Linked DNA regions of Homo sapiens: region 1 is linked to region 2. The links come from fine-mapping of genetic effects on gene expression. A gene starts in region 2. The other region holds a variant in brackets. All regions are shown on one strand. Distances are from middle to middle. Region 1 overlaps CADPS2 (calcium dependent secretion activator 2). Region 2 holds the start of CADPS2 (calcium dependent secretion activator 2).

The links.
Region 1: its variant is fine-mapped to the expression of CADPS2 in lung (TOPMed, PIP above 0.99).

What each region holds. Positions count from the first base shown.
Region 1 is chr7:122,555,518-122,560,898 of GRCh38, reverse strand. The region is part of intron 7 of CADPS2 (calcium dependent secretion activator 2); the gene reads left to right. All of the region lies in intron 3 of LOC105375481 (a long non-coding RNA gene), which reads right to left. Among named protein-coding and RNA genes, the nearest start is that of RNF133, 140 kb to the left of the region's middle. The variant T/C (reference allele first, on the strand shown) is at 3,190.
Region 2 is chr7:122,883,375-122,888,755 of GRCh38, reverse strand. It overlaps CADPS2 (calcium dependent secretion activator 2), which reads left to right and starts at 2,296. Exons shown (of 30, transcript NM_017954.11): 1 at 2,296-2,757. The coding sequence starts at 2,419. RefSeq lists silencers at 1,889-2,048, 2,059-2,218, 2,289-2,368, 2,379-2,428, 2,469-2,598 and an enhancer at 2,959-3,008.

The DNA.
Region 1 (5,381 bases), 330 kb after region 2:
CTGCTAAATAAATACTGAAGTGAAAAAAACTTCAGGTAGTCCTTTCATAATATATGCTACCTCAAGGTTCTACACTCTCAAGAAGGTATTTGAAAGATTTGCTAGAGACTGTCTTTATGAATCTTTGCTAAAGTATAAAATCTCTGTCAATTGAAAGAGAAAAAGAAACATCAACTAAACCCAAAAAGTCAAGGTTTCTTGTAGAGATAGGCTCTACTTATCTGGAAAGATGTTCCCTCAGCCATTTGCCTAAAATATCCTTTGTCTCAAGGACACCTGTTTGTAAGCAGAAGTGATTTTTAATCAAAAATTGAACCATGATTTCTGCTAATTGTGTTTTTAGTTCCTTCTTCCTCTGTTTGAGGCTAGTTCATCACTTAGTTGGATATGAGAAACCTGATCATTGAGTCACATGACTCATCTCTGAGATGTATGTAGCTAGAGAGAGGGGAATTATTCTTTACTTGAGTATGAAAATTTGATTTTCATTCTCTGGTTTGTAAACATTGTTTTACTAAATGTTACCTATATAGGATAACACACGCTTAGCAAAACACATTTCTTACAGTCTATCCCTAATCTTCCATAATTACTGGTTTTATCCATAAGCTTAACCTTCTGGTATCTCCTTCAACCTACCTTCTTGTATCTCCTTCAACCTACCTGTCTGTATTGTCATCCTCCCTGCCTTTACACACAGTAACCTTCTAGCCAAAATGATTTTGCCCAACTTACCTGATTTTGCCAACTTAAACCTTAAATGAAGTCTTATTCTATTCCTCAAACATGATATGTCCCTCACACCATTGCTATCTGGCCGCAACTAAACTTTTTCCTGCTCAGGTCTCCAGTCACCTCTCTCTTTTTTAACCAGGCAATAGCCTTTCAGACCCAACAATGTGCAGCCTCTTGATCCCCATGTGACCCTGATGCCCCCTTCCTACTACCTAAAAAACTCTCCCCCTTAAATTTGGTACATCACAAACTTCAGCTTTCTTCTGCCTCCTTGGTGACTGGTCTCAGTTATAGAGTCTTGTCCCTTTTCCTAACTCTAGAAAGGTGGTGCCCAGAGGGTTCTCGGGTTATCTTCTCTCTTTTTCTTTTCCTTTTTTTTTTTTTTTTTTTTTTGAGGTGGAGTCTCGCACTGTCACCCAGGCTGGAGTGCAATGGCACAGTCTCGGCTCACTGCAACCTCTGCCTCCTGGGTTCAAGCTATTCTCCTGTCTCAGCCTCCCAAGTAGCTGGGATTACAGGCACCCGCCACCATGCCTGACTAATTTTTTGTATTTTTAGTAGAGACGAGGTTTCACTATGTTGGTCAGGCTGGTCTCAAACTCCTGGCCTCGTGATCCACCTGCCTCGGCTTCCCAAAAGTGCTGGGATTACAGGCATGAGCCACCGCACCTGGCCCTCTCTTCTTATCTTTTAAGAACATAAAGAGAATTGACATGGCAGAAAATGTAATGAGTGTTTGTACTGATTGAAGTTCTTTTCGTGGAGAGCGGTGGAAACGGACTGAGGCTAAGTCCAGGGAACAGAGAAAAAGTTGAACAGCCAAGCTTGGGGAAGAGCTTGAGAACCTAGAGTAATGTTACAAATGTCAGCATTGGAATCATGTGTTTTTTTCTAGGGTGCCGCTGTTACAGTGTTTGGTTTCAACAGCCCCCATATCTTTATTTTTCATCCCCTACCCCATGTCAGCCTTATAAATCTTAGGTGTTCTTTTAGACTTCCAAGTGAAACTGTAATTCCTCTATGAAAGCTGTCATGATTTTTTCAAGAATTGCTGAATGCACTCATCTTTGAGCTAGAATTGTACCAACTGTGTGTCTGCTGTTTTGCCATAAGATATGGTGCAATTATTGTGGTCCCAGGGTCTTTTTTCCTTTCTCTAAGCTAAGAGACATATATGGGAGAAGGTAGTGAATTGTCTGTCTAGCCCCTCTGTTTTTCTAGCTTGTCTCCCCCAGCACCCAGTGCTGTTTTGTTTTTTGTTTTAGTTTTTCAGGTGCTTGTTGAAACAGAGTTTAGCAATTTAAATAGTCTTGATTTCACAGATCACAGAGTTTATGCACAAATGTATGTAGTTTGGCCTCAATCAGGTATCTCAGTAGAAAAGAAACAATGTAGAAGTGACAGCTTATATATTTTAAGAGAAAGCTACTTCTGAACCCCATATCACTCTAAACATTTCTGTGTGTAAATGTGTATTTTATATTTCATTTTTTTAAGTCTTAGTTTTTCCTCCTGTATATTAAATTTGATGGAATTTTTAACAAATCCTAAAAATCCATTTTGTGGTTTCCATTACACCTTAGCAAAGATGACAAGTGACACTGACATTTTATTATGAAGAAGATACATTAGCTTTATGTTTAAGACAAGAAATCATTTTTGTGCCATGCTGACAAGACATTTAAAGTGTTGGTGACAAAAATAAATGAGAAGAAGCAGAAATGCATACGGAAAGGTTAAGAGAAACGAATGGTAAAGAACAAAATAGTTTGCTAAATAATATTAAAAGTTATTTGTACAGAGCTATAGTTTAATTTAAATGCGAATTTAGGATACAGAAGGATCCTTAGTAAGCTTTTATATCTGTTAAATATTTTAATTATTATGACTGTCAACATCAGACACAATCTCTAAACATGAACTGAGTCCTATTGAAGTGGAACTGCTTCTAATAAAAAAAAACAATTCTTCATTATTTACTTTTGAAAGATTTTGAAACAAAATACCTTGTTGATATACTAGTTAGGATACTGCTAAATGCTATAACAAGAAAGTCGTTACATTTCAATAATTCAAAATAATATCAGGTTTGTAAGAGTTTACCACAGGTATTCCTGATAGAAGTGTGACTTTCTTCCACATGGTGATTTAGGGCTCTGATTTCTTTCGTTTCCTAGGTATTGGTGTTCTCTGAACTTGGCTGGCAGTGGAATAAAGTGGGGTAAAGACATCAAACCTGTATCTTGATCACCTTTTCCCAAGGTGACACATGTCACCTTTAACAAGAACTTTCATATGTCCCTACTTAGAAGCAGGAGGAGCTAGAAAACCTGGTTGTTGGCTAATTAGCTGTTTACTAGCAACAGTTCTATACTGGTGAAAGCATGAATCGTGGCAAATAGCCAGCCGGTGTGCCATAGTTCACCCTTGTGGCCACCAAGTTGTTTTGTTGCC[T/C]TTCTTCCTAAACCTAGAACACATTCACCTTATCTCAAGAGAAACAGCCCAAAGTCCTATTTCATTTTTATATCCAGTCCAATATCTGTGTCACAGCTAGCAGTGGCCCTTTGCAGGCTGGAAACCTGTGAACTAAAGTTCATGGTAACTGCCTACGACATCTTCCCTCCCCATTCTGCCTCAGGATAAATCCAATATACAGTAACGGAACAGGGACAGGAGAGCTATGGGTAAGTTTGCCACGTGGAAAAAGGAAAAATGGGAAACGCATGGCAGTAATTGTCCAATTACAATAATGAAATCCTATCTGGCAGGCACTGTGAAGACACCCTGCCAAGGAAGTGTCCCAGATCTCTTGATTAGAGCTGTATTGTGTGTTCTGAAAAGAACTCCCTTGTCCTTTATTCTCCATGGCCCTCTGGGCTCTGCACCTTGGGAGCTGCTTCCTTATCTATTCATTCATGGCGAAATTGGATAAAGGAGTATGACCACTTTTTTGCTTGTGCAATTTGGGAGCCTGAAAACTATTTTACAGACCATTTTGAAGTTTAAGTTCAGCATTTATTTACCAATGCACTTCTCTTAGAAACAGAAGATTTCGTATCTGTGGACCTCCCCTTGTTACACGTGCCAATGTTCACACCTTTATCAGTCAGTCTGTCCAGAAAAACAAACATTCCCACGTCTTTCCAGTGGAGGGAACATAACATAGGGAATTAGATATACATATGATAGGGAGAAGCCAAGCAGATGATTGTGAATATACCCAGAAATTAACTAAATCAGGAAACCATTGCATACTCTAGGGAAAGAAGAGCAATAGGAAGAAGTGATATTATCAGAGCTAAGAGTGCTATTAATAAAAGACATAAACTAAGCCCTATTGAAGAGGAACTGAGCTCTTGAGAGATGTGAGCCATTCATGTTCTTTAATCTTTGTGTATCCTCACATAGTAAGAACTCAGTGTTTATTTAATTGAACAGAGCTGAGCAATAAATCCTTCCACTGACTTCAGTTAGAAATACCCATCAAAAAATAAAATGTGGCAGAAAAAATGGTATTCGATATTGGGATAGCCTTTAATTTGTGGATCAGCCAAAATCAGTTATTTTGGGACCTAATTTAGCAAGCCATCATCAGCATTTGCAGAATGAGAAATTGTCAAAAGTTTTAATTTAAATATTCCCTTCCTGTATAAGAGTTCAGAGTTTGGTACAATACCAATTTTTATATAAACATAGAAGGAAGAATTAAAAAACAATAAAGTCTGTAAGTGGCTCATGCCAAATAATTTTTTTAAAGTTGGTGTGGGGGATGGGTGTGGAGAAAGAGAAAAAGCTTTCCAGACTTATTAGGAAAATAGCAGCTATAGCTACAGAGGATATAGAGATCTATCTTAGTCTTTTATTCTTTTTTGGAATAATCTTCTAAGTTGATAATGATATTCCTTTGTCTACTGGTTTGAGCCAAAAGCTATCAGCTTATTTTTCTTTACTGTCACTTAAGAAAGAATCTGTAAAATATTACACTGGATATTTTAGCAGTCAAAATGAATTCTAGAGTATGATCATAATTGTGAAAACATTGTAAATGTCATTTAGTTTGTTCTTAGATGTCCTTTATATACTTGAGTATATAGATATGCTGGATTCAACACAGCTATGGCTTTATAGGAAGGACTTGAGAAAAGTCTCAAAATAGTAGATACATTTAACAACTTGCAAGTTGAGAATAGTTTGAGAAGCTTTTATGACTGTGTTGTCTTTCCTAGAGAGAAGGGGAGTCTTGCTTAAAGATTTCTCAGTGAAGATTTCTGCTTATACTGCAAATGAGGATTTGAGGGTAGGGGAAGGGCATGACAAAGTCAATTGCCATGAATGCTTTCAAAACATTTTAGTATTAGAATCTAAGAATAGAAGGCAGCCTTATTAAATTGGTAAAGACTATCCCTAACAACTTGAGACTGGACTTAGTTTTGTTATATTAAAGTAAAATTATAACAGTATTACAAAGAAATTTCAGATTCACAATCACTTTGTGTTGCCTCAAGATTTATGCACAAGAAGATATGTTTCAATATAGTTTTAATGAACATATTTATTTTGTTTGTGAAAAAATTAGAATACCTGAGAATGTTTATAATTCTTCCATTCATATCTAAACTTCAGGTTTATGGCTTAAAATATAATGC
Region 2 (5,381 bases):
TAAACTTCTTACGGCCTATATCTTGTTTTCCTAAATATATCCAGTATAGCTTTAGCATATGTTAGTTTCTTAATCAATGTATGTTTAATGATGCTTAAACATTCTCTTTGTTGTCTTTTAGATATTTCTTTAATTTATGCCTCTTAAGTCATCTTCATCTTCATGGAGAAAACACTGTATATTCTGCTCTAAAAATTATTAGATGTTTTCCTGTGGGATCCTCAAGGCTTGGAGATCTTTGACTTAATAACCACCTTTAATGGGAAAAGAATAAGTGATCACATCAAGTAATATTGATTAATAAAAGGAACTGAAAAATATACCTATTGTTGGCAAGAAAAGGGCAGTAAAGTTGCTATATTTAAATCATACATTTATGTCCCTAGAAATTTTTATTAGTTTAGTAAACCTCATACATTTATTATACTGTCTTATTATCAAGGCAAATTGCAGTAGAAAATGACACTATTTGGAACTAGAAAACTGTTTTGAGTCCTTATTCCATTAGGTGCTAGTTCTGTACCCTAAGGAAAGGATTCTTCAACTCTCAGGTTCCTTATTTGAACAATGGAACCTAAAATAAATGAGATAATGTATGTAAAGAGCTTAGTGCAGTATCTGGTTCAAAGGGCAATCAATAATAATACTACCTGCCTCAGAAAGCTATTACTTTGATGAGGGTATTAAACAATTTCACAGATCTTTGCAAAGTGCTAGATAAGCATCAGCTATTATGACAAGATTGCTATTTGTTTGCCTTGCCAAAAATAAAACATTGCCTTTAAATACATAGGTGTTTGAGATTTTCTATTTCTTGGCAGTTTGTGATCATCCCACAGCCATGCTCTTACTGAAGACCTTTTATTACTAGGGGGCCTGTTATGGATTAGGCAGAAAAATAGGTAAGACTCCTCAGGAGTAAATGCCTCCTTGTCTTTTACCCATCTAGAGAGAATGTCAGTAAGTGCAGAAGTCTCTCTTGTGTACCTAACTATATGAAAGTGGCCTGAAAAAGCTAAAACTGCTGTTTGACCATGGTGGTAGAGGAGCTCAGAGCTGGTAGTTAATTTGCCCTGTGTTATTTCCACTGAACTTCATCACCTCCCTGCCCACCTGGTCGCTGCACACTCCACCTGGTGTTGAATGCATTGTTTTGCCTATTTCCCCCTCTGTCAGGACTTAGGACATAAGATACAGAATTACTATAAGAAACTCCTAGGTGGTTCCAGCACTAGGACTGAGAAATCTGCGCAGATAAGGCAGGCTTCAGCGCAGCTACAAGACGCCGACTTGAGGCCAGAACCACCAGCGACTGAGTGTCATGTGCCTTAGTCACCGCGGGCTCCGCAAAAGGCTAACAGTGCTGGACACCGGGAGGGCGCTCAAATCTTTGTTGAATAAATGTCCACACTACACAACCTGTTTTGAGTCAACTGCATCCCAACCCAGAAAATAATCGAGATATGTTTGAGCTGAATCAGTATCATTTTGCACATATAAAATCTCTCTTGCCTTGAGTCTGCAGGACTAGAACAGTTTAAAAAGTAAGCCTCGTTGGTTTTCTTTTTTTTTTCATTACTCCGACTTTTATAATTTGGGCTTCAGCATGAGTATCAAAACGGCAGCAGAGCAGAGTGAGACTTTTCAAAGTCTTGTCGCAAAGATACTTCGTGGTGAAGGGCTCCAGTCCCGCTTTTCCGCGCTGGGGTTCAATCCTAGGCAGCCGATTCGGGTTGGGGAGATGTCTCGGCCGCTCCCCCTAACCTCTTGCTAGGGAACAGTCCCTCCCCGCTCCCCATTCCACCTCCACCTGCTGGAGAAAAGATCACAGGTGGTAGGGTGAGGGTAGTCGGAGCAGCCCCGGTGGACGCTTACACGGGCCATCGCGCTCGGCCGCTCCCCGCCTTTGCAAACTGTGTGCTAGGGCTCCAGGCGGGCCCGGGCAGCAGCGGCGGCGCGCGCACGCGCACTCCGCGGCCCCGCGCGGCTCTTCAACATTCAATTCCACGTGTTGCTTGTTGTAGGCGCCACAGGTTCCCCACCTGCGTCCGGGCGCTCGGGCGGCTCCGCCTCTGCCGGCGGGCTCTGGGGAACCGCTGGGTCGGCGCGCCCGGGGCTGGCGGAGCAATTCCTGAGGCGCCCAAGCTCACCCCCAACGCTAACTCCGCCTATTCAGTCCCGGCGGCTCCCCCTCTCCCCCCTCCCAATCCTCCTCCCGGCTCCTGCCCGCCCCTTTCGCCCTGGTGGTAGGAAACACTCCTGAATCTAACTCGACGTGTCCGGAAAGCCCTGGCCAGTTTTCCTTTCGTTCTGCGGCCGCTGCAGCCAGCCCCGCGGCTCCCTCAGACCCGCGGGCGCAGCCGCCGGGGGTGAGGCGCTTGGGGACCGCGGGCCGAGCGGCGGGGATCCCCGAGCACCATGCTGGACCCGTCTTCCAGCGAAGAGGAGTCGGACGAGGGGCTGGAAGAGGAAAGCCGCGATGTGCTGGTGGCAGCCGGCAGCTCGCAGCGAGCTCCTCCAGCCCCGACTCGGGAAGGGCGGCGGGACGCGCCGGGGCGCGCGGGCGGCGGCGGCGCGGCCAGATCTGTGAGCCCGAGCCCCTCTGTGCTCAGCGAGGGGCGAGACGAGCCCCAGCGGCAGCTGGACGATGAGCAGGAGCGGAGGATCCGCCTGCAGCTCTACGTCTTCGTCGTGAGGTGCATCGCGTACCCCTTCAACGCCAAGCAGCCCACCGACATGGCCCGGAGGCAGCAGAAGGTGAGTTGCGGGACCGGGCGCCTCCTACCACCACTTCTCCCTGGGTTTTTCTCCCGGGAGAGCTCTGGGACGCCTCCCGTCCTTCTGCGAAACGCAGGACACCGTATTTTTGTTAGTCTCTGAGGGCAGAGGAATCTTTGGGGACAAGACGGTGCTTTCACCCGCCGGGTATGCGGCTGCAGCGGACACCTCTTCTCCTCCTCCCCGCCTGGGCTGGCAGGAGCTGTCAGCTCACCATCCGTGAGACAGAGACCGACAGCGCCGGCCGCGCCGCGGTTGCACCCGGCAGGCGCAGCTCTGGCCGGATTAGAATGCAACTCCCATCAACTTTAATTTCCAACAGCACTGGTGCATTCCTGTCCACCTAGCCTGGCGTGATATTGCTAGAGCTGGGTTTGCCGAGGGTCTGAATGAGTGTTGTAGCTAGGCGAAACAGGTGGAGCCCGAGTACTTCTCTTAGCTAGAGTGAAGTCTTCACTTAAGAGGGGTAGAAATTTTCCTCAGTGAATAAAAAAGTTAAATTAATACGTTTCCTATATTGTCATACAACCAGGACATCAAATCCAAACACCGAGAAGGCATGCAGCTTTGTAAAGTGTTTGTGGGTAAGTAATTTCTGGTCTGGGCAGGCCTGATTAATGAAATATACTATTACTGATGAAAGATAAAGGATTGGTGCATGATCACTTCATAACAAATGCTTTCCAAATGCTTTTTTGGGGAACAAAATGCTTATTCTCCCCCAAAAGGTAAGAAGTTTGTTTCAGGTGAAAGGCTGGCCAACTTGAGTTTCAAAACAAGACCCCAGGGGCCTGATGTTCTGTACCAGACACGAGTAATGACTCAAATTGTCCTAAGTGGTTAAATGTTTACAATACAAACTCTAGGAAATCTTTTTAATAGAATGCTGAACCTGGAAGGTTCTGTAGAAATCGGTAACAGTTCCCTCAGTTTGTGACAAGACCTAGAGATCCAGAGAGATTGTAGTCTGCTCAAGGCATACCTACATGCACAGACATTTATTAGTTTTCTGAAATATTAACTTCAGTGTGTGAGGCATTTTTAGAAATTTGGAGAGGTTTTGAGTTGACTTCAACTATAACTGTAGTTCAGAGTAAATTCAGTCTCCCTACATTCTCCTACCCCCATTTAGATAACCTTTATTTTTTGAGGTATAATTGACATGTAAAAAGCTGTGCATACCACTCCACCCTAACTATTGGTGGTTTCATAGGTGTATAAGTATCATGGGGATAAGTACACACCTATAGTTAACACTATTGTATGCTTAAGATCTATCCTCTTAGAAAAAAATTTTAAGTGGTCTTACCCAACTTTTTAAAACACACACAAACTGAGCAACTATTTTGGAATCATTTATTCTCTGGGAATCCTTATGGAATATTTCCTTACAGCTGGAGATTAATAACAGATCCTTCAGGTAACCTAACCCTAGGTATTCAGTCACAGAATGGTAGGGAGACTCCTCATGTTGGAGAAGAGAAATAGGTCATAATAGCATTTCCCAATCCCAAACAAATTGGCACAGTTAAAACCACCATTACTCAGGTAAGTTTTGAATGCCCCGCGGTGTTTTTATGAGCCTGCTGCTCCACTCCTGTATGAATCCCATACTTCCTAATCAGCTGCTCTAATTGAGTCTGTTCTGAGGCAGTCACCCGTGGCCTCTTCTCAATTCTAGTCAAGCGACTGTCAGCTTCAATAGTCATTGTTAAAACTATTTTTTGTATATGTTGTGGTATGAGTTCATATCATCCAGTCTCTAGTTTTACCATTCATATTGCATTTAAGCCTATTTTTAATGATTAAAGTGTAAAAATAATGTTTGGTAAAATTAAGAGACTATTTTCTCCTTGGAATATTATCCTTGAAGATGCTTTTGCAAATTTACTATGAGTTGATTTATACTGTGAATACTTGTTGCATTTTGTTAATGAAGTGGACCCTCCCTTAGCTGTTCAAATAGTGCATTTTTCTCTGACTCCTTCTGTTTAAATATTTGTTCAAAATTATTTGAATTGGCAAGCAGGTGCATTCACAATACTACTGGGGAGACTATTGTTATAACCTTATCCAGGCATTACCAAAGATAATTTCAAACTACAAAAAAAGCAAAATACAACATATATTCTATGAAAAAAAATAGAATCCTTAGGAATTTCCACATTCTAAATGCTTAGAGCATTGAGCACAGGTTAACTTTTGTGAATTACTTTTATTTTTTATTAAGATGGATGCCAAATAGCCTAAGTATTTACTTTACTCAACCCTCCCCCACCTTTTAAAAAATGTGCTGCTTACTAAAGGGAGCTGGAGCAACTTTTGGCAGTCTGGTTTCCTCTTAGGGCAAAATGAAATGGGAATTTAACTATGTTTATGTGAATTTGATGCACAAGCTAATAAGTAATGCCAAAACTTACTTGAAGTCTTGCATTATACAGTTAGATTATCTAAAAGAAGTAACAAGGTAATTGCAAAATCACTAATCCGTTGTTTATTTTATTCTGTATCTTCAAGTAGTCAGGCATCCAGTAAAAAGATTTAATAGCTGAAATTGTTGTCATTGAAATGAATATTGCTGCTTACTCACTTCTCTCAACTTC